Linked DNA regions of Homo sapiens. The protein of the gene in region 1 purifies or fractionates together with the protein of each later gene. This does not show direct contact. Each region holds a gene or a part of one and is shown in the gene's direction. Other genes may lie near its edges.

Region 1 (4,675 bases):
CTCCATTGTGTCTTAATTTTTTTTTAACTCACTTGTGGCAGGTCTTTATTGAATAAAGGAGGAATAAACCTAGACAGGGAGTTAGAAATGAAAGACATTTCAAGACAGTTCAAGGGTTATGTTGGTGACACTTCTTGTCTTCCAGACAGTTTTGAAAGCACAGATCTTGCCTCTTGTGCTTGTTAAAAAATCTGTGATACTTCTCTGAAGATTTTATAATTAAATAAGTGAACCATTACCATGACCTTTTATAAAAGTGCTGCCCTATTTGAAGTATTGGGTTTTTTCTCATGATGAGCTTTGTTAGACTTGGTACTGAAAAAATCAGTAGTTTTTTTCCTTCTATTTTAAAGGCAAAGAAATGCTTGCTTCAGCTAGGCATGGTGGCTCATGCCTGTAATTGGGAGGCTGAGGTGGGTGGATCACCTGACGTCAGGAATTGGAGACCAGCCTGGCCAACATGGTGAAACCCCATCTCTACTAAAAATACAAAAAGTTAGCCAGGCGTGATAGCGGGTGCCTGTAATCCCAGCTGCTCGGGAGGCTAAAGCAAGAGAATTGTTTGAACCTGGGAGTGGGAGGTTGCAGTGAGCCGAGGTCGTGCCATTGCACTCCAGCCTGGCCAACAAGAGCGAGACTCTGTCTAAAAAAAAAGAAATGCTTGCTTTCTGTGTAGTTTTTTAACTTAGGTCAGTGCCATAGGACTGACCAAATCATAAATTGAGGATGCTGTTGGTATTCAAAGTTTTTACTCATTACCCTTACTCAGTTTGCAGCTGCAATGATCTGTACTTAACCTGCTTTTACATATTATGCTTCCTTGACAATGGGAGGAATTTTAATGGTTAACTTGCAGAATATGACAGATACTTGTCTTAATATCATTCTTCCTACCATAATCTAATTCAAAACTATCCAGTAGAACTTTCTGAAATGATTGGAATGTTTTTTATCTGTGCTGTCCAGTGTGGAAGCCAGTAGCCACATGTGGCTGTTGAGCACTTGCAGTGTCACTAATGCGTTTGAGGGACTGAATTGTTAATTTTTAAAAATGTATTGATTTTAATTAAGTTTAACATTGTTTTGGACAGCACAGATTAGCCTTTTAGAGTACCTTCTTGCTGAGTACTAGCAGTGTATAGGTTTCCCCATGAAAAGGACCTACATTTTTGTTGGTTAAGAGGTTATTAAATGTGCTTTGCCAAAGATACTACCTTGTCATTTCTTCCAGCTTATTAGTTCCGTGGGTTTCTTGGAGTACTGTTAAATCCTTTTTACAAATATATATATACACAACTACTGAAGAGACTGTTTATTTGGGGAGTTATTCACTTTTATATTTAAGTCTTAGGCTTAATATGATAAAATACCTCTCAGTTGCTGTGAATAATGGTCTATAGAAGCTGTTCATTGAGAAAATGATTATTCTCGAGTTTCTGTTGATTTTAAACCTTTTTTGTCTGTCTCTTTCACTAGACTGTAAGCTTCTTCAGATCAGGGGACATGTCTTGACAGTCTTTGTATTCCTGTTGTTTAGCATAGTACTGGCACATCATAGGTGTGCAAGATAAGAAAATGAGATTGGAAGAATTTATGCTACTTGCTGCGCCTAACAAATGTGGATGTCTGTATTATACTGATACTATATTTTCAATAGTTAGCAAAGAAGGCCATTTAATATTTTAATACTGAAAAGCAGAATTGTGCTCATTTTATTCAATACTTACCATATACCATACACTAGATAGTAGGTGGATGTAAAGATGCAGTTCCTGCTCTCAAAGAGGATTATGACCTAGAAAAGGTTACAGATTGGATTGAGATAACTTTATAGGCCTGAACAATACAGAAAAGATTTCTAAATCATTGAAGACTTCAGGGAGGAAAAGAGATTGAATGCGTCGGCAATTTTTATCATTCCCGTTACTTTGAACAATAGTGTATGTAAGTGCAAAAAAAAAGAAAAAGTTGCTGATCATTGTGGTGAGAGGAATGTAAAATATGAGTATTTTTCTTGCTGCTAGGTTTAGTTATATTGTGCTGCTTATTCTTAATTCTAGTCCTAACAAATTTGATTTCAAAAGCACATCTGTGGTCAACCAACTTCATTGTTAATATTTGTTTTATTCATATTAAGTGACAATGTAAGAATATTCATGTTAAGTGGTACTGCAGATTTTATAAAAAGGAGAGGATCCAAAAATAAAAAAGTATTTTGCTGATTTCCAACTCCCATCCCTCTTTTTCAGGAACTGCAAGCACATGTTGACCAGATAACTGAAATGGCAGCAGTAATGAGGAAAGCCATTGAAATTGACGAGCAACAGGGTTGCAAGGAACAAGAACGAATATTTCAACTTGAAGTAAGTTTTACATTGCAAATGTAGATGAAAACTGTCCATATAAAGATTTATGCCAGAAAATATATCCCATTTTTAAATATATATTTACTCTTCTTGGGTACTGGTAATGTTCTCCTGGATGCTGTCTATGTGGGCATATTATGCAAGACCATTTATGTGGTGATGCAAGAATCTAGGATTATTAGTAACTTACAATATACCAGTAATGTAGAAAATTGATGTTTCATTCTATATTGCTTATCTTATGAAGTGAATGTACTTCTTCAATTGAGTCATTTTTAAAATTTTGTTTATTCTATTAGAGATCATAGTGATACAGGGAAATTTTTTTTAATCCACAAATATTTAGGGGCACTCTTATTTTTCTGGGGATTCTAAAAACCTTTGTCATCTGTCCTTTATTTTATGACAGTGAAAGTACCAGTCTCTGAATAACTGAAATCAGTACAATAGACTTTTATGCCTTAAGAGCTTCATTTTGAAATCACGGCGGGGAACCTGCTTTAGACTACTAAAATTTAGAAAGTGAGACTGAAGATAAAGTGATAGAGAACAAATTATGAAAGGTTATTGTTAAATGTCTACAAATTTTTTTACAGTAACTAACCAAAAGGAGGCCAGAAAGCAAAGTTATTTACCAGTGCCAGATTTGGTCACTTACTTTCCTTCTTGAAAAATATCATCAGCTACCCCTACCCTGCTGCTCTCAAATGCCAATGAGCTAAACTTGTCCTACATTCCATGCTATCATGGAAAGTAATAAAAATACTAAAAATTACTAGGAGATTCTAGCCTATTCACTGGCTTTACGAGTTTATATAAAAATAAATCTAGATGTTATTTTCTTCATCTCTAATGTGATTGTAAAATAAGGCAATTTCTGAGCTTCTGTTTACAATTATAGCTGCTTAAGTAAGAAGGCTTTGCAGTGGTGGAAGATGTTGAACACGATTCCTAGCTGCATAAGTGTTCTTTAGATTCAAGTTGCCAACTGCATATATCATTGAGTAGATTAATGCCAATTACAGACCTTGCTTGTTTGTTATACCTTCATATGTTCAGTTTTTCCTAACATATGTTTGTGATGTTGTAGCTACCTTGTAGATAGTGACTGCATCTTTGTTTTTGCTTGCCTTTTAGCAAGAAAACAAAGGCTTGAGAGAGATCCTTCAAATAACTCGAGAATCATTTTTGAACCTAAGGAAAGATGATGCGTCGGAAAGTACTTCTTTGTCAGCATTAGTGACCAACAGTGATTTGAGTCTGAGGAAGAGCTGAAGAGTTTCTGAGTCTGTGAGCTTCTTACATGGCTCCAAATGGTCAAATAAGTGAATGAATGAATGGACAGAAAATTCAATCCTTTATTTTTTTCTCTGTAAATATGTACAGTGCACGGGCTATGAGATAGCAACAAAAAATGCATAGTTAATGGTCATAGACTTTATTCCAAAACATAATTGGAAAATAGAAACTGAGCCATTGCCAAATGGTAAAGAAATGAAAAGTTTTCACAGTGACTACTGAATATACCAAGAGCTTTTGGCAGTACTGCTGGCTTTCTGGGTGATTAATTAGGTAAACTTGAATATTCCCAGTAAATGTTTGAGAATGCATAAAATTATACCAATTTAAAAATATAAATTTTTGCCACTGTTTTGTGAACGGAGGATTTGTACGCTAAATTTCATCCTTATTTGGCGTCAAAGTTGATGCAAAGTTTATGTACCATGAGACTTCTAGTGATTGCCTACTTTCACATTTATTTAAATTTTTGTGAAAGAAAATACAGTTTTAAAGGCTATAGGAATGTGTTATATGTACCTTAAACAGATAATTTAATTTTAGCAATTTATCATAACTGATACTTAGCTAACAATTGTCCATAACTTGTTTAAGTGTAAGAAATACCATTTCAGGAATGAAAAAGAAGGAATACTACTTTCTAAGAAAGAAGATCTTATAATAGACATATTTAGTAGGTTAAACTACTCCTTTGAAAGAATAAGTTTTGGTTCAAAGTCAATAATGAAGACGAGATTTGTTTTTCTCTTCTCTGGCTGATTTTTAAGGATATTATGTAGTTCATTTAGTTAACAGAATTGAAATGTTTGATATGGCAAGATAGGTATGGTAATTTCAAAGTGAATTGGGAATTCCTCTGGCTCATAGAACCCTTTTTTTTTTCCTTTAAGTATTCTTGAGATACAAAAAAAAAAAGTAAATACAATTTCAAAAAAAAAGTTCCGGATCTGTTTTTAAGCTCCATCTGGTCCTCATAACCTGCAAGATTTTTCTTAAAACCTTTCAGCTGA
Region 2 (4,714 bases), on another chromosome or scaffold:
TTGAGTTGTTACTGTCTCACTGTAAGGATAGATAACCCACTATATTGACTTTAACACCACAGATTAGTTTTGTCCTTTGTGACGTCAGTATGGATTTTGTGTCTGACTTCTGTGGTAATAATCTATTTGTGAGATATGTCCATGTTGTGCACATAATGGTTGTTTGTGCATTTTTATTTTTTTAATGATATTCTACTGAAAGTATATACCACAATTTAATATCCATCCTACAGTTAACAGACATTTGGGTTGTTTCCAGTTTTGAGCTAAAACAAATAATGCTAGTATAAGCATTCTTGTACATGTGTTGTGGTGCACATATGTCCCTTTCCATTCTTCTCCCCTCCTGTCCTATTGCCCTCCCTTCTCCTCTCCTCCCCTCACTGTCATTGGATTGGCTAGGAACTCTAGTGTAATTTGAATAAATGTGACTGGTGATAATAGGCATCTTTGTTTTAGTCCTGACTTTATAGGAAACACTTCTTATATGTTAACCTTAAGAGTTATGTATGTGGAGAAATCATATTACCTGACTTCAAATTATACCACAGAGCTATAGTAACCAAAACAGCATGGTATGGGCATAAAAACAGACACATAGACTGTGTTAGTCTGTTCTCATGCTGCTATGAAGAAAAACCTGAGACTGGGTAATTTATAAAGGAAAAAGATTTAGGCCAGGCACGATGGCTCACGTCTGTAATCCCAGGACTTTGGGAGGCCAAGGTGGGTGGATCACTTGAGGTCAGTAGTTGGAGACCTGCCTGGCCAACATGGCAAAACCCGGCCCCTTGCGTGTTTGATAGAACTTGCCTGTAAAGTAATATGAATCTGGTGTGTGTGTGTGTGTGTGTGTGTGTGTGTGTGTGTGTGTGTAGGTAGACTTTAAATCATAGAATTGGTTCCTTTAATGATTATGAGACTGCTTAGATTTTTCTCTTGATTTAGTAAGTTATATATTTTAGGAAATTTTTCATTTTTTTGACCTTTCAAAGTTGTTGATATAAAGTTGTTCATAATAGTCTCTTATTAAGATTTCTACTATTTTTATAGTCATGTCCATTTTTTCTTTCTTAATATTATTTATCTGCATCTACTTTCTTCTTTTCTTAATTGTTCTTGACAGAAGTTATAAACCTTTTAAAAGAGTCTTTAATTTTTTGATCTCTCTTTTTTGCAATTTTATGATTTCTGTTCTTTATTATTTACTTTCTCCTGTGTACTTGTTCTGTTTCTATCCTCTGAGTTGGACAATTAGTTCATTAATTTTTGGTCTTTCCTGTTTTCTTTTTTTCTTTGAAAAATTTTATTATAAACATGATGCTTTGATATACATGCAGTGATATGGTTACATACATGCAAATTAACATATCCATTATCTTACATAGTTACCTCCTTTTTTTTTTTTTTGCGAAAGCACATAAAATCTGTCTTAGCAAAAAATCCAGAGTATAATACAATATTACTAACTATAGTCCTCCTATTGTACATTAGATCTCCAGACTTGTTCATCCTACATATCTACTACTTTGTATCCTTTGATTTATATCTCTCCATTTCCTCACCACCACCACCACCCCACCCCGCTGACCCCTGCTAAGTATTATTTTATTCTCTGTGTGTATTCATCTTTTTTGTAGATTCCGCATGTGGTTAGGCATGGTGGCTCATGCTCATAATTCCAGCACTTTGGGAGGCCGAGGCGGGTGGATCACTTGAGCCCAGGAGTTCAAGATCAGTCTGGGCAATGTGGTGAAACCTCTTCTCTACAAAAAAAATACAAAAATTAGCCAGGCATGGTGGCATGCGCCTGTAGTCCCAGCTATTCAGGATGCTGAGATGGGAGAATCACCAGAGCCCAGGGAGGTTGAGGCCTGTAGTGAGCTGAGATCGCACCACTGCACTCCAGTCTGGGTGACAGAGTGAGGCCCTGTCTAAAATACAAACAAGCAAACCCCAACCCTGAGATTCTGCATACAAGTATAATCATGCAGTATTTTTCTGTGTGTGGCTTATTTTGCTTAGTGTAATGTCCTCCGGGTTCATCCATGGCAAATGGCAAGGTCTCGTTTTTTAAGGTTGAATAATATGCCACTTTATACACAAACACACACACCCATACATGCACCCACATCATTTCTCTATCCACAGACACTTTGGTTGTTTTCATATCTTACCATTGTGCATAATACTTTCTTCTTTATTTTTATTTCTTATTGTTTTTTTGAGATGGAGTCTCCCTCTGTCACCCAGACTGGAGTGCAGTGGCATGATCTCAGCTCACTGCAGCCTTGTCCTCCTGGGTTCAAGCAATTCTCCTGCCTCAGCCTCCCAAGTAGCTGGGACTATAGGCACTTGCCACCACGCCCAGCTAATTTTTGTATTTTTTTTTTTAGTAGAGATGGGATTTCGCCATGTTGGCCAGGCTGGTCTCGAACTTTTGACCTTGGGTGATCCGCCCACCTTGGGCTCCCAAAGTGCTGGAATTACAGGCATGAGTCACCACGCCCAGCCTGTTTTGTTTTGTTTTGTTTTTAAAGTATTAAGGTTAGAAGTTTCTGTCTAAATACAACTTTAAATGCTTCCTATAAGGTTGTTTATTTATTTTAGAGATAAGGTCTTGCTTTGTTGCCTAGGCTGGAGTGCAGTGGCACAATCATACCTCACTGTAACCTTGAACTCCTGGGCTCAAGTGATCCTCTCGCCTTGGCCTTCCAGAGCGCTGGGATCACAGGTGTTGAGCCATCGTGTCTGACTTGAGTTTTTGACATTGAATATTTTTATTATGGTCATTTCTCAATATTTAAACATTTCCATTATGCATTTCTTTATAGCCCATGAGTGTTTATTAAGAAGTGTTTAAAGTTTTTCAAACAAATGGTTGTTTTGGGGTTAGCTTAATTCTACTCTGTTCAGAAGGCATGTTCTATATGATATAGATTCTTTTATTTTTGTTGAGATTTGATTTGTGTGTAAAACATGGTTGTTTCATAGAAGGTCCAAGTGTGCTTGAGAATAATGTGTATTCTTTTTTTCTTGGGTGTATTGTATTAGATCAAATTGACTAATTTTATTGATCAACTTTTCTGTTTTTTTATTTGCTTACTTATCGGTTATCAAGGAAGGTATATTGAACTCTCCTAGTATGCTTGTAGATTGATCAGTTTCTCCTTTTTTGTTGTTTTTTGAGACGGGGTCTTGCCCAGGCTGTAGTGCAGCAGTGCAATCACAGCCCACTGCAACCTTAATCTTCTGGGCTCAACTGATTCTCCTACCTCAGCCTCCCAAGTAGCTGGGACTACAGGCACGCACGGCCATGCCTGGTAATTTTTGTATTTTTTGTAGGGACTGGGTTTTGCAATGTTTCCCAGACTGGTCTTGAACTGCTGGGATCAAGCAATCTGCCCACCTCAGCCCCACAAAGTGCTGGGATTACAAGTGTAAGTCACTGCACCCAGCCAGTTTCTTCTTTTAATTGTATTAATTTTGAGGCTATCTTATTGATATATTTAATCTTAGAATTGTTATATATCTTTCTGGTGAATTGTTTCTATTATCATTTTGAAGTTGTCTTCATGATTTCCAATAGTGAATTTTGTCTTAAAATCTTTTTTGTTTGATGATAATGTAGCTACACCAGCCTTCTTTTGACTGATGTTTGCCAGGCTTATAATTTTTCCATCCCTATACATCAAACTTTCTGTGATCTTTTATAATTTTTAAAAACCGTTATGTTATATTCAGCTAGATTTTTAAAAATCTTACTGAGAATCTCCCACTTTTAACTTGTCATTTTGATCCATTTATATTTATTGTAGTCACTGCATATTTGTGTTATTATTTTATTTTGTACTTTCTTTCTTTTTTTTGAGACAGAGTCTCACTCTGTCGTCCAGGCTGGAATGCAGTGGTGCAGTGTCGGCTCACCGCAACCTCCGCCTCTCAGGTTCAAGTGATGCTTGTGCCTCAGCCTCCCGAGTAGCTGGGACTACAGGCATACGCCACCATGCCCAGCTAATTTTTTGTATTTTTAGTAGAGATGGTGTTTTGCCTTGTTGGCTAGGCTGATCTCAAACTCCTGGCCTCAGGTGATCCGCCCGCCTTGGCTTGCCAAAGTGCTAGGATTACAGGCATGAGCCACCACGCCTGGCCTTATTTTGGACTTTCTTTATATCATGTTTTTTCCTTTTTTCTTTTTTTTAAATGCATATTTAAAAATTTTTTTTATTGATACATATTTGTACATACTTATGGGGTATATGTGATGTTTTGTTACATGCATAAATGATTTAAGTTAGGGTATATGGGGTATCCAGCATCTCAAGCTTTTATCATTTTTATGTGTTGGGAACATTTAAAGTTCTTTTAGCTGTGTTGAAATATTCCTTTTTTTCCTTTTTTCTTCTTCTTTTCCCATTAGATTAAATTTCTTTATCCCTCTCTCTCTCTTTTTTAAATTCTGCTGATTTGGAAGATATACTTTTAATTTATTATTGTTTTGATGGTTACCCTTAACTAATTTTTTAACCTTTTTATAGAAATAAAAAAACCCTGTAGGAAAGTGCAGCTGTCATAAATTTCACAAGCTGAAATCACTTACAGCACCCAGATAAAAAAAACAGAACATTCTTAGCATGTCAAAAGTCCCCTTTGTGCTTCTTTCTAGTAAGTACTACCCTTGACCCTTTGCAGATAACTATTATTCTGACTTCTA
Region 3 (4,714 bases), on another chromosome or scaffold:
GAGGCGGGTGGATCAGCCGAGGTCAGCAGTTTGAGACCAGCCTGGCCAACATGGTGAAACACTGTCTCTACTAAAAATACAGATGTTAGCCAGGCGTGGTGGTGGGCGCATGTAATCCCAGCTACTCAGGAGGCTGAGGCAGGAGAATCGCTTGAATCTGGGAGGTAGAGGTTGTAGTGAGCTGAGATTGAACCATTGCACTCCAGCAGTGAGCCGAGATTGCACCATTGCACTCCAGCTGGGTGACAAGAGTGAAACTCCATCTAAAAAAAAAAAAAAACAGAGTTCTTGAATTTTCTTTTTTGTTGTTGTTCTTATTTTGTAATTATTTCTTTAAATTTATTATTATTTTTTTAGAGACAAAGTCTCACTATGTTGCCCAGTCTGGTCTTGAATTCCTGGGCTCAAGCAGTCCTCCCTCTTCGGCCTTCCAAAGTGTTGGGATTACAGGCGTGAGTCACTGCGCATGTTCCCTTTTCGTTTTTTGGGTTTTTTTGTTGTTTTTTTTTGAGACAGAGTTTCACTCTTGTTGCCCAGGCTGGAGTGCAATGGCATGGTCTCGGCTCACTGCAGCTTCCACCTACCGGGTTCAAGCAATTCTCCTGCCCCAGCTTCCCACGTAGCTGGGATTACAGGCACCTACCACCACGCCCAGCTAATTTTTGTATTTTTAGTAGAGAGGGGGTTTCGCCATGTCAGCCAGGCTGTTCTCAAACTCCTGACGTCAGGTGATCCGCCTGCCTCAGCCACGCAAAGTGCTGGGATTACAGGCGTGAGGCACCATGCCCGGCCCCTTTTCTTTTTTTCTGAGATGGAGTCTTGCTCTGTTGCCCAGGCTGGAGTGCAGTGATGTGATCTCAGCTCACTGCAGTCTTTACCCCCCGGGTTCAAGCAATTCTCCTGTCTCAGCTTCCCAAGTAGCTGGGATTACAGGCGCCCGCCACCAAGCCCAGCTAATTTTTGTACTTTTAGTAGAGATGGAGTTTCACCACGTAGGCCAGGCTGGTCTCAAATTCCTAACCTCAGGTGATCCACCTGCCTTGGCCTCCCAAAGTGCTGAGATTATAGGCGTGAGCTACCGCACCCAGCCTTCCCTTTTCTTTTTTTTTTTCTTGAGACGGACTCTTGCTCTGTCACCTGGGCTGCAGTGCAGTGGCGTGATCTTGGCTCACTGCAACCTCTGCCTCCTGGGTTCAAGTGATTCTCCTGCCCCAGCCTCCCTAAGAGCTGGGATTAAAAGCGTGCGCCCCAATGCTCCGCTAATTTTTGTATTTTTAGTAGAGATGGGGTTTCACCATGTTGGCCAGGCTAGACTTGAACTCCTGACCTCAGGTGATCTGCCCACCTCGGCCTCCTAAAGTGCTGGGATTACAGGCATGAGCAACCACACCTGTCCCCTTTTCTTTTTTCAAAGAAGAGTTTTCATGACCATTTGCTTTTCTTCCAACTGACCAATATGTTAAACTTAGCAACAAGTTTATCTTGGAGATCCATATTTCCAGTTGATTAATGAGTAGAAGTTAACTGAAGATTTGCAGCTTAAAAAAAAAAACAAAAACTTTAAAAAAAACTTCAGCTAATTTACTTTCTGTCAGTAGAGTTTTCATTTTATGTCTTCTTTCACATGACACTGTAATAACCCTAATCATCCTTTTTCTTTTTTTCTATAGCATTACCAGGAGAGTGACAAGGGTGAGGTATGTTGGAGCTGATTTCTAAGCATGAGGGCCTTTCCCTTGCAAGTTGTTACTGCTTTTGGGGCCTCTTTTGGAGAAAAGCCAAGTAGTCAGTCTCCTATTCATCTCAGTGAGTGTTGTCCTATGGGGTGGCCACCAGTTTGGACAGTTCTGTTTGAAACCATCAGGATGGCTGGGCATGGTGGCTCATGCCTGTAATCCTAGCAGTTTCGGAGGCCAAGGTGGGAGGATCACTTGCATCTAAGAGTTTGAGACCAGCCTGGGCAACATAGACCCCTTCTCTACAGAAAATCAAAGATTAGCGGGGCCTGGTGGCACATACCTCTGTATCTCAGCTACATGGGAGGTTGAGGTGAGAGGATCACTTGAGTCCAGGACGTCAAGACTGCAGTGATCCATGATCACATCACTGCACTCCGCGTGAGTGACAGAGCGAGACCCTATCTCAAAAGAAATAAAAACCGTCAAGATCGGCCGCCCATGGTGGCTCATGCCTGTAATCCCAGCACTTTGGGAGGCCGAGGCAGGTGGAGATCACGAGGTCAGGAAATCGAGACCATCCTGGCTAACACGGTGAAACCCCGTCTCTACTAAAAATACAAAAATTAGCAGGGCGTGGTGGCGAGCACCTGTAATCCTAGCTACTTGGGAGGCTGAGGCAGGAGAAGCACTTGTACCCAGGCGGTGGAGCTTGCAGTGAGCCGAGATTGTGCCACTGCACTCCAGCCTGGGCGACAGAGCGAGACTCTGTCTCAAAAAAAAAAAAAAAAAAAAATCAAGATCTCTATTTTCTTTGATTTTGATTTCCAGGAGTTAGGACCTGGAAATGTACAGAAAGAAGTCTCATCTTCCTTTGACCACGTTATCAAGGAGGTAAGAGATGAATTACATCCTGTGCTGTTTGCCCAGATCAAACTGTGGTGTTGCAACTATGGAATCAGAATCATCAGGCCTGTGTGTTCAGTGTCTGTTCCCAAATGAAATTAAACCTTCAAATTAATTTGGGCTTTACTACATGTATAACATTAAAAAGAGAGAGGATCAGTGCTTGCTGTTCAGAATAGATGCATTTCAAGAAAACTCATTTTGCCCACACATTCCGTCTTTAGAATACTGAAAGTCTTCTAATAGTGTTGAAAACCTCAGGAATAAAAGTGTTAAAATAGGCCAGGTGTGGTGGCTCACGCCTGTAATCCCAGCACTTTGGGAGGCCAAGGCAGGAAGATCACTTGACCCCAGGAGTTAGAGACCAGCCTATGCAACATAGTGAGACTTCCTCTCTACAAAAAAAATAGAAAAATTAGCTAGGTGTGTGGTGGCACATATCTGTAGTCCCAGGTACTCGAGAGGCTGCGGTGAGAAGATGACTTAAGCCCAGGAAGTTGAGGCTGCAGTGAGCTATGATTGTGCCACCATACTCCAGCCTGTGTGATAGAGCAAGACCTTGTCTTTAGAAAAAAGTATTAAAATAGCGACCAGGCCCTTTGTATGTTGGATAGTATCTATGCAGAAAGGCTCTTTTGACATTTTTCTGACTCTGAAAAGTTCCTCATCACCCATTTCCCACCCCCATATGCTGCCATAGGTGTTTCTGTGCCTGGCTTTCAGAACTATTCTCTTATTACTTAAGTCTTCACATTGTCTTAATTGTCATTAATGAAGTCACAATTATCCAGGAAATGCAGCCATCCAAAATACATATTCCAAAGGCTGGGCGCAGTGGCTCATGCCTGTAATCCCAGCACTTTGAGAGGCCGAGGCGGGCGGATCACCTGAGGTTGGGAGTTGGAGACCAGCCTGACCAACATGGAGAAACCCCGTCTCTACTAAAAATACAAAAATTAGCCAGGCATGGTGGCGCATGTCTGTAATCCCAGCTACTTGGGGGGCTGAGGCAGGAGAATGGCTTGAACCCGGGAGGCAGAGGTTGTAATGAGCCAAGATTGCACCATTGCACTCTAGCCTGGGCCACAGGAGTGAGACTCCATCTCAAGAAAAAAAAAAAAAAAAAAAAAAAATATATATATATATATATATATTCCAAAACAAACATTACTAAAGGTCTGGAAACCAGATAAATTAGCTCTATTTTCTGTAAATTTTCATGAAATTAGTTTGCTTAAAAGCAGGGATACGGCCGGGCGTGGTGGCTTACACCTGTAATCCCAACACCTTGGGAGGCCGAGGCGGGCAGATCACGAAGTCAGGAGATTGAGACCACCCTGGCTAACACGGTGAAACCCCGTCTCTACGAAAAATACAAAAAAATTAGCTGGGCATGGTGGCAGGCGCCTGTAGTCCCAGCTACTCGGGAGGCTGAGGCAAGAGCATGGCGTGAACCTGGGAGGTGGAGCTTGCAGTGAGCCAAGACTGCGCCACTGCACTCCAGCCTGGGAGACAGCGAGACTCCCTCTCAAAAAAAAAAAAAAAGCAGGGATACATGTATTACTATGCAATTAGTATTTTCCTTAGTTTGCCCATCCAGTCCCATAGGATCTTATGCCCTTGGAGAAGGGGTGAGGGCTGTCTTAAAACTCAGTGACTAGGCCGGGTGTGGTGGCTCACACCTATAATCCCAGCACTTTGGGAGGCTGAGGCGGGCAGATCACGAGGTCAGGCATTCAAAACCAGCTTGGCCAACATGGCGAAATCCCATCTCTACTAAAAATACAAAAAAAATTAACTGGGCATGGTGGTGTGTGCCTGTAATCCCAGCTACTCAGGAGGCTGAGGCGGGAGAATCACTTGAACCTGGGAGGTGGAGGTTGCAGCAAGCTGAGATCGCACCACTGCACTCCAGCCCGGGCAACAGAGCAAGACTCTGTCTCAAAAAAAAAGAAAAGAAAAAACTCAGTGACCATAAAGATACTGTTTAAATGCAAAAGCCGGCCAGGCACGGTGGCTCATGCCTGTAATCCCAGCAGTTTGGGAGGCCGAGGCGGGCGGATCATGAGGTCAGGAGATCGAGACCATCCTGGCTAACACGGTGAAACCGTCTCTACTAAAAAATACAAAGA
Region 4 (4,714 bases), on another chromosome or scaffold:
GCTGCTGCTCATCTAAGGATAACACCATCAATGATAAAGCTAAGACAGCTCATTGAGTGCCTGTGTGTCCCGGGCATTGTTCTCAGAATATTACATGTGCTAATTCATGTTAAGGATATAGGTACTACTGTCATCCCCATTTTACAGATGAGGAAACTAAGGCGCAGTTAGAGCCAGGATTCAAACCGTGGCAGTCCAGTGCATGGCTGGGTTTTTTGTTTTTGTTTTTGTGTTTTTTTTGTTTTTGTTTTTGTTTTTGAGAGAGAGTCTTGTTCTGTTGCCCAGGCTGGAGTGATATGGCGTGAACTTGGCTCATTGCAACCTCCACCTCCCGGCTTCAAGCTATTCTCCTGCCTCAGCCTTCTGAGTAGCTGGGTTTACAGGTGCCTGCCACCACACCCAGCTAATTTTTGTATTTTTAGTAGAGATGGGGTTTCGCCATGTTGGCCAGGCTGGTCTCAAACTCTTGACCTCAGGTGATCCACCCGCCTCGGCCTCCCGAAGTACTGGGATTACAGGCATGAGCCACCATGCCCAGCCATGGTCTGGTTTCTTAACCACCGTGTCCTGTGGCCTCTTGTGCAGTCCAAGCACGTATCACAGCATTTTGTTTCCCCATTGGTCAGTACTTGTCAGGGACATCACTTATCTTCCTTCTTGGAGGAAGATGCTGACTCTCAAAATCTCCTGCAGCAACAGTGCCGCCTGCAGCAGTGCTGTGAGGAAGCCTGCCATCTCCCTGGCTGACAGCACAGACCTCAGGTGAGGCGAGCAGCAAGCCTGGGCTCCTGAGCGTTAGTCAGAGATGAGATCAGAGCAGGGTGTGGGAGGCTGTCTGTGGGTGTCATTGCTGTGTGTGCTTCTGTACACATCATCTGCATGTGTGATGGGCTCAGTGTGAATGATTAGTAGGAACTGCTGAGGGCTCGTCCTAGGTGGGACTCTGGGTTGAGACTCCCAAAGGCAATCCAGGGTCAAGTGACTTACTAGAGCCACAGCTAAGTGTGGCCTCCTACTCACACTGTTACTCAGGACCTGGTCGTGGGGTATTTTGTATTTGGATGAAACACTTGATGGTGTTCCCTGGACTCCCACCTTCTTGTGTACACAGCTTGATGCTCATCTTCATTGGGTTAGACCTGACAGCTTCCTAATGTTTCATGGCTGCCCAGGAGCTCACAGCAACTGCTGACCACCAAGATCACCCCTCAGTTTTTGAGGGTTGAAATCTGGCTCTTTTTATGAATTTGGAAGTTTTTAGACTAGGTGGTTGTAGTGTTGCCTCCCGGGTGTTAGGATCCCTGGGCGTCACCTCTCAGCTCCTGCTTTCCATTTCCTCATCATAAACCCTGTTTTTGTTCTCACTGTGACCCTGTTCTGCTTTGACCCTACAGCTCGCTACCACCTCTGTGGTTTTTTTCTTTTCAGGAAGCTTAGGGTGGTAAATGCTTTTGGCCATTCTTGTTCATACTCATTTATTCAGATACCATTTATTAATAGTAAGCCCCTGCTTTGTGTAAGCACTTTGTTAGACACTAGGGTGCTCCTTTGACCCCCCCATCCCACTCCATTGTGAGCTGGCTCTTGTCCTCAGGGTCCTGCTCAACATCATGTACCTGATAGTGGAGACCGTTCATCAGGAGTGTGAGGGTGACAAGGCTGAGTGGAGGACCATGCGGCAGACCTTCAGAGCCGAGCTGGGTAGGACCCTGGGGATCCTCTCTAGAGGCCCTGCCTGGAAGCTGAGGCGGAAGGCTTTGGGAGGGTCCTGATACCTTTGTGTCACCTCCAGGCTCCCCGCTGTACAACAATGAGCCATTTGCCATCATGCTGTTTGGGATGGTGACCAAATTTTGCAGTGGTCACGCCCCTCACTTTCCCATGAAGAAAGTTCTCTTGCTGCTCTGGAAGACAGTATTGGTGAGCACCTCCTTGGAGGAGGAGAACGGTGCTATGGGATGGGCAGTAGGGAGACTGTTCCTTGAATATCCTTTTGAATATTGAATTATGTGACTGTAAAACTGCTTTGGTAAAAAAAATTATTTAAAAAGCTGCTAAAAGGAGATGACAAAAGAAGGGCCACTATTGTCCCATTGCAGCCAACGAGGACATAGGCCTTGAGTCAGAGTAGGCTGTTGGCTCTCTGACCCCGGAAGCTGTTTTCTGTCATAGAACAGCTCTCCCCCAGACAAGTTGCCTCTCAGCAAGCAGCTCTGGACCTGGAGTTTGTAAAGGGATTTGAGGCAAAGTTACAGCTGATGTAATTGGGGCCCTGGTTGGATATCACTTAAAGGGGCAAGAGTGAGCCCTGAGCCAGCCTCCATTTTCTTCAGGGTATGGTGTCAGCCCGACTCTGTGTCTAGGTAGGGAGGGACTGGGTGCCAGAGTGGGCCGTCCAGCACACTGGGCTTGGAGCGTTGTTAGCAGCCAGGCCATGCCAGGAGGCCTTCCCAGGAGGAGTGACATGGGGAGGCGGTGGAGGTGAGTTGGGCCTCTGCTACACTGGGGCTCATCCTTCCTTTCAGAATGGGTCAACTCTGGAGCCAGGGCTCAGTAAGTATAGGATTTCTTAAAAGTCATTGACACATTTTATCTTGGCCACACATTCTGTTCTTCATAAAGCCTTGCTAAGGCTAGAGAGGAAAGCTGAATTGCTCAGAAACAGTAAAACTAAGCAGTCTAAAGCTGGATGTTGCTGGCGTTTCTGCTTCTTGGGAGATGTTTAGATGAAGCTTTTTTTCTTCTTCTAAAGTTGAGCAACCAACAGTATTTCTAATTTGACTTTGAAAGACTTGCATGTACAACTTGTGAAACATGAGTCTCACCAACTTTTCTAGGAACTTGCAGGGTTAGGCTCTTTGCTTCTTTTTAAATTGAAGAGTATGTCATAGGTGCAGAGTTAGTGTATCTGCACTAGGGTCAGTCAGCCTGCATCTCCACTCTTTCCTTGTTCCTTTTTCTCCTTTCCCTTGCGGATGTCACGGAATTCTCCTTGGGAGTGGCTTCAGTCCATTGTTCAGGAGTTGCCTGGGTCTCTATAAAGACATGGGTCATGATGTCATGAATGTTTCTGAGCCTGACACAATGGTCAGGGGCCAGCCTGTGGACACATTGACCCTGGCTCTGCTTCCCTGTCTGTGATGCAGTGCACGCTAGGCGGCTTTGAGGAGCTGCAGAGCATGAAGGCTGAGAAGCGCAGCATCCTGGGCCTCCCCCCGCTTCCTGAGGACAGCATCAAAGTGATTCGCAACATGAGAGCAGCCTCTCCACCAGCATCTGCTTCAGACTTGATTGAGCAGCAGCAGAAACGGGGCCGCCGAGAGCACAAGGTGAGGACGACAGAGGTCCCTGTGACTCCTGAGGGCCCTCAAGGTGCATGCTTGCAGCAGCACAGTCCTTGGAGGAGCAGGGCTGCTGGAAATGATCTCTGATCAGCCAGTCAGAATCATGCCTCCACAGCGAGGATACTTTGTCCCCAGCTCTGGTCCAGTGTATGGTGAGTGCTCAGCACGTGGTGCTTTTGAGGGACTGGAGCAAGAAGTAGTTGATGGTTTGGCCCCCGTCTTGACTCCCACTGTGGTTTTTCCACTGTTCTTGCCTCTACTGGACACCTGTATGTGCTGTGTCTCCTCTGGCTGCACTTCCCTGGTCTGCGTCCTCAGTTGGCTCTTGTCTCATCTCCCTTCCCTGGTTTCAGGCTCTGATAAAGCAGGACAACCTAGATGCCTTCAACGAGCGGGATCCCTACAAGGCTGATGACTCTCGAGAAGAGGAAGAGGAGAATGATGATGACAACAGTCTGGAGGGGGAGACGTTTCCCCTGGAACGGGATGAAGTGATGCCTCCCCCGCTACAGCACCCACAGACTGACAGGCTGACTTGCCCCAAAGGGCTCCCGTGGGCTCCCAAGGTCAGGTGAGTCTCAGACCTCCAGAGCACTCATAGTTCCTGAGGCAGAGCCCTCACACCCTCAGGCCTGCCACCTGGCCTGTGTCACCATGTGTGGTCCTCTGCAGGGCAGGCTGACCGTGGCTCTGGGATGAGGCTCTCTTAAAGCACCCTGTGCTGTCCTGAGGGTCTCAGGGAGGCCGGCCTTGCTGGTCTCACACAACATGGCCCTCATGTGGCTACTGAGGCAGTAATTGGAGTTAGCTCTTGGTTAGATGTGCTAGTGAAGGGGGATAGGAAACAAATAAAAACAAAAGCATTTAAGCAAACATGTCTCCACCCATCCTGGGGTTGTGTATGGTTTTTAACAAAAATGATAGATTAAGGAAGAGTTTCTTTAGAGCCATAATGAAAATGTTTGAGATATATGTGGGTAAATCGATGGATGGGACGGTACCTGGAGATATATAAATGGTGTCTGTTTGATAGGCAGCAGCTTAAGAAATAGATGAACATGTGAGAGGATATAGAAGTCGCTTTCTTGATCCAGGTAAAGCCTCAGTTTTCAGTGATCTGTGAAGGGAATGCAAAACAGATCATCAGAAAATGCAAGGTATGCTGATTGTTTGGGATAGGAAAAGTGAGCTATATGAAAAATCAGTAGCCTATAGCTTTAATTGTTTAAAAGTTTTAATATTTAAGAAAGTCTGTTGACAAACTTGTTCATACTATCTGAATAAAGCATGTTTTTAAGTTTGATATATCCCTTTAATTTTATGAATAAACTAGTTAACATGTATTTCCAGGTTACTGATCCAGCAAAATT

What was found. The genes of interacting proteins can lie anywhere in the genome.
Region 2: the proteins of FGFR1OP2 (region 1) and MRRF purify together in Homo sapiens (affinity purification with mass spectrometry; one large-scale study listed by BioGRID and IntAct). This does not show direct contact.
Region 3: the proteins of FGFR1OP2 (region 1) and MTCH2 purify together in Homo sapiens (co-immunoprecipitation; one large-scale study listed by IntAct). This does not show direct contact.
Region 4: the proteins of FGFR1OP2 (region 1) and STRIP1 purify together in Homo sapiens (affinity purification with mass spectrometry; 3 studies listed by BioGRID and IntAct, with this or other methods). This does not show direct contact.

Annotation. Positions count from the first base shown.
Region 1 is NC_000012.12:26,961,093-26,965,767, forward strand, and holds part of FGFR1OP2 (FGFR1 oncogene partner 2), read left to right. Parts: intron 1-2,249; coding exon 2,250-2,363; intron 2,364-3,503; coding exon 3,504-3,641; 3' UTR 3,642-4,675. UniProt on the Homo sapiens protein: May be involved in wound healing pathway.
Region 2 is NC_000009.12:122,273,700-122,278,413, forward strand, and holds part of MRRF (ribosome-recycling factor, mitochondrial isoform 1 precursor), read left to right. Parts: intron 1-4,714. UniProt on the Homo sapiens protein: Responsible for the disassembly of ribosomes from messenger RNA at the termination of mitochondrial protein biosynthesis. Acts in collaboration with GFM2. Promotes mitochondrial ribosome recycling by dissolution of intersubunit contacts.
Region 3 is NC_000011.10:47,632,528-47,637,241, reverse strand, and holds part of MTCH2 (mitochondrial carrier homolog 2), read left to right. Parts: intron 1-1,670; coding exon 1,671-1,697; intron 1,698-2,507; coding exon 2,508-2,570; intron 2,571-4,714. UniProt on the Homo sapiens protein: Protein insertase that mediates insertion of transmembrane proteins into the mitochondrial outer membrane. Catalyzes insertion of proteins with alpha-helical transmembrane regions, such as signal-anchored, tail-anchored and multi-pass membrane proteins.
Region 4 is NC_000001.11:110,039,942-110,044,655, forward strand, and holds part of STRIP1 (striatin-interacting protein 1), read left to right. Parts: intron 1-693; coding exon 694-762; intron 763-1,594; coding exon 1,595-1,701; intron 1,702-1,792; coding exon 1,793-1,920; intron 1,921-3,146; coding exon 3,147-3,329; intron 3,330-3,697; coding exon 3,698-3,915; intron 3,916-4,377; coding exon of another isoform or gene 4,378-4,396; exon of another isoform or gene 4,397-4,714. UniProt on the Homo sapiens protein: Plays a role in the regulation of cell morphology and cytoskeletal organization. Required in the cortical actin filament dynamics and cell shape. Part of the striatin-interacting phosphatase and kinase (STRIPAK) complexes.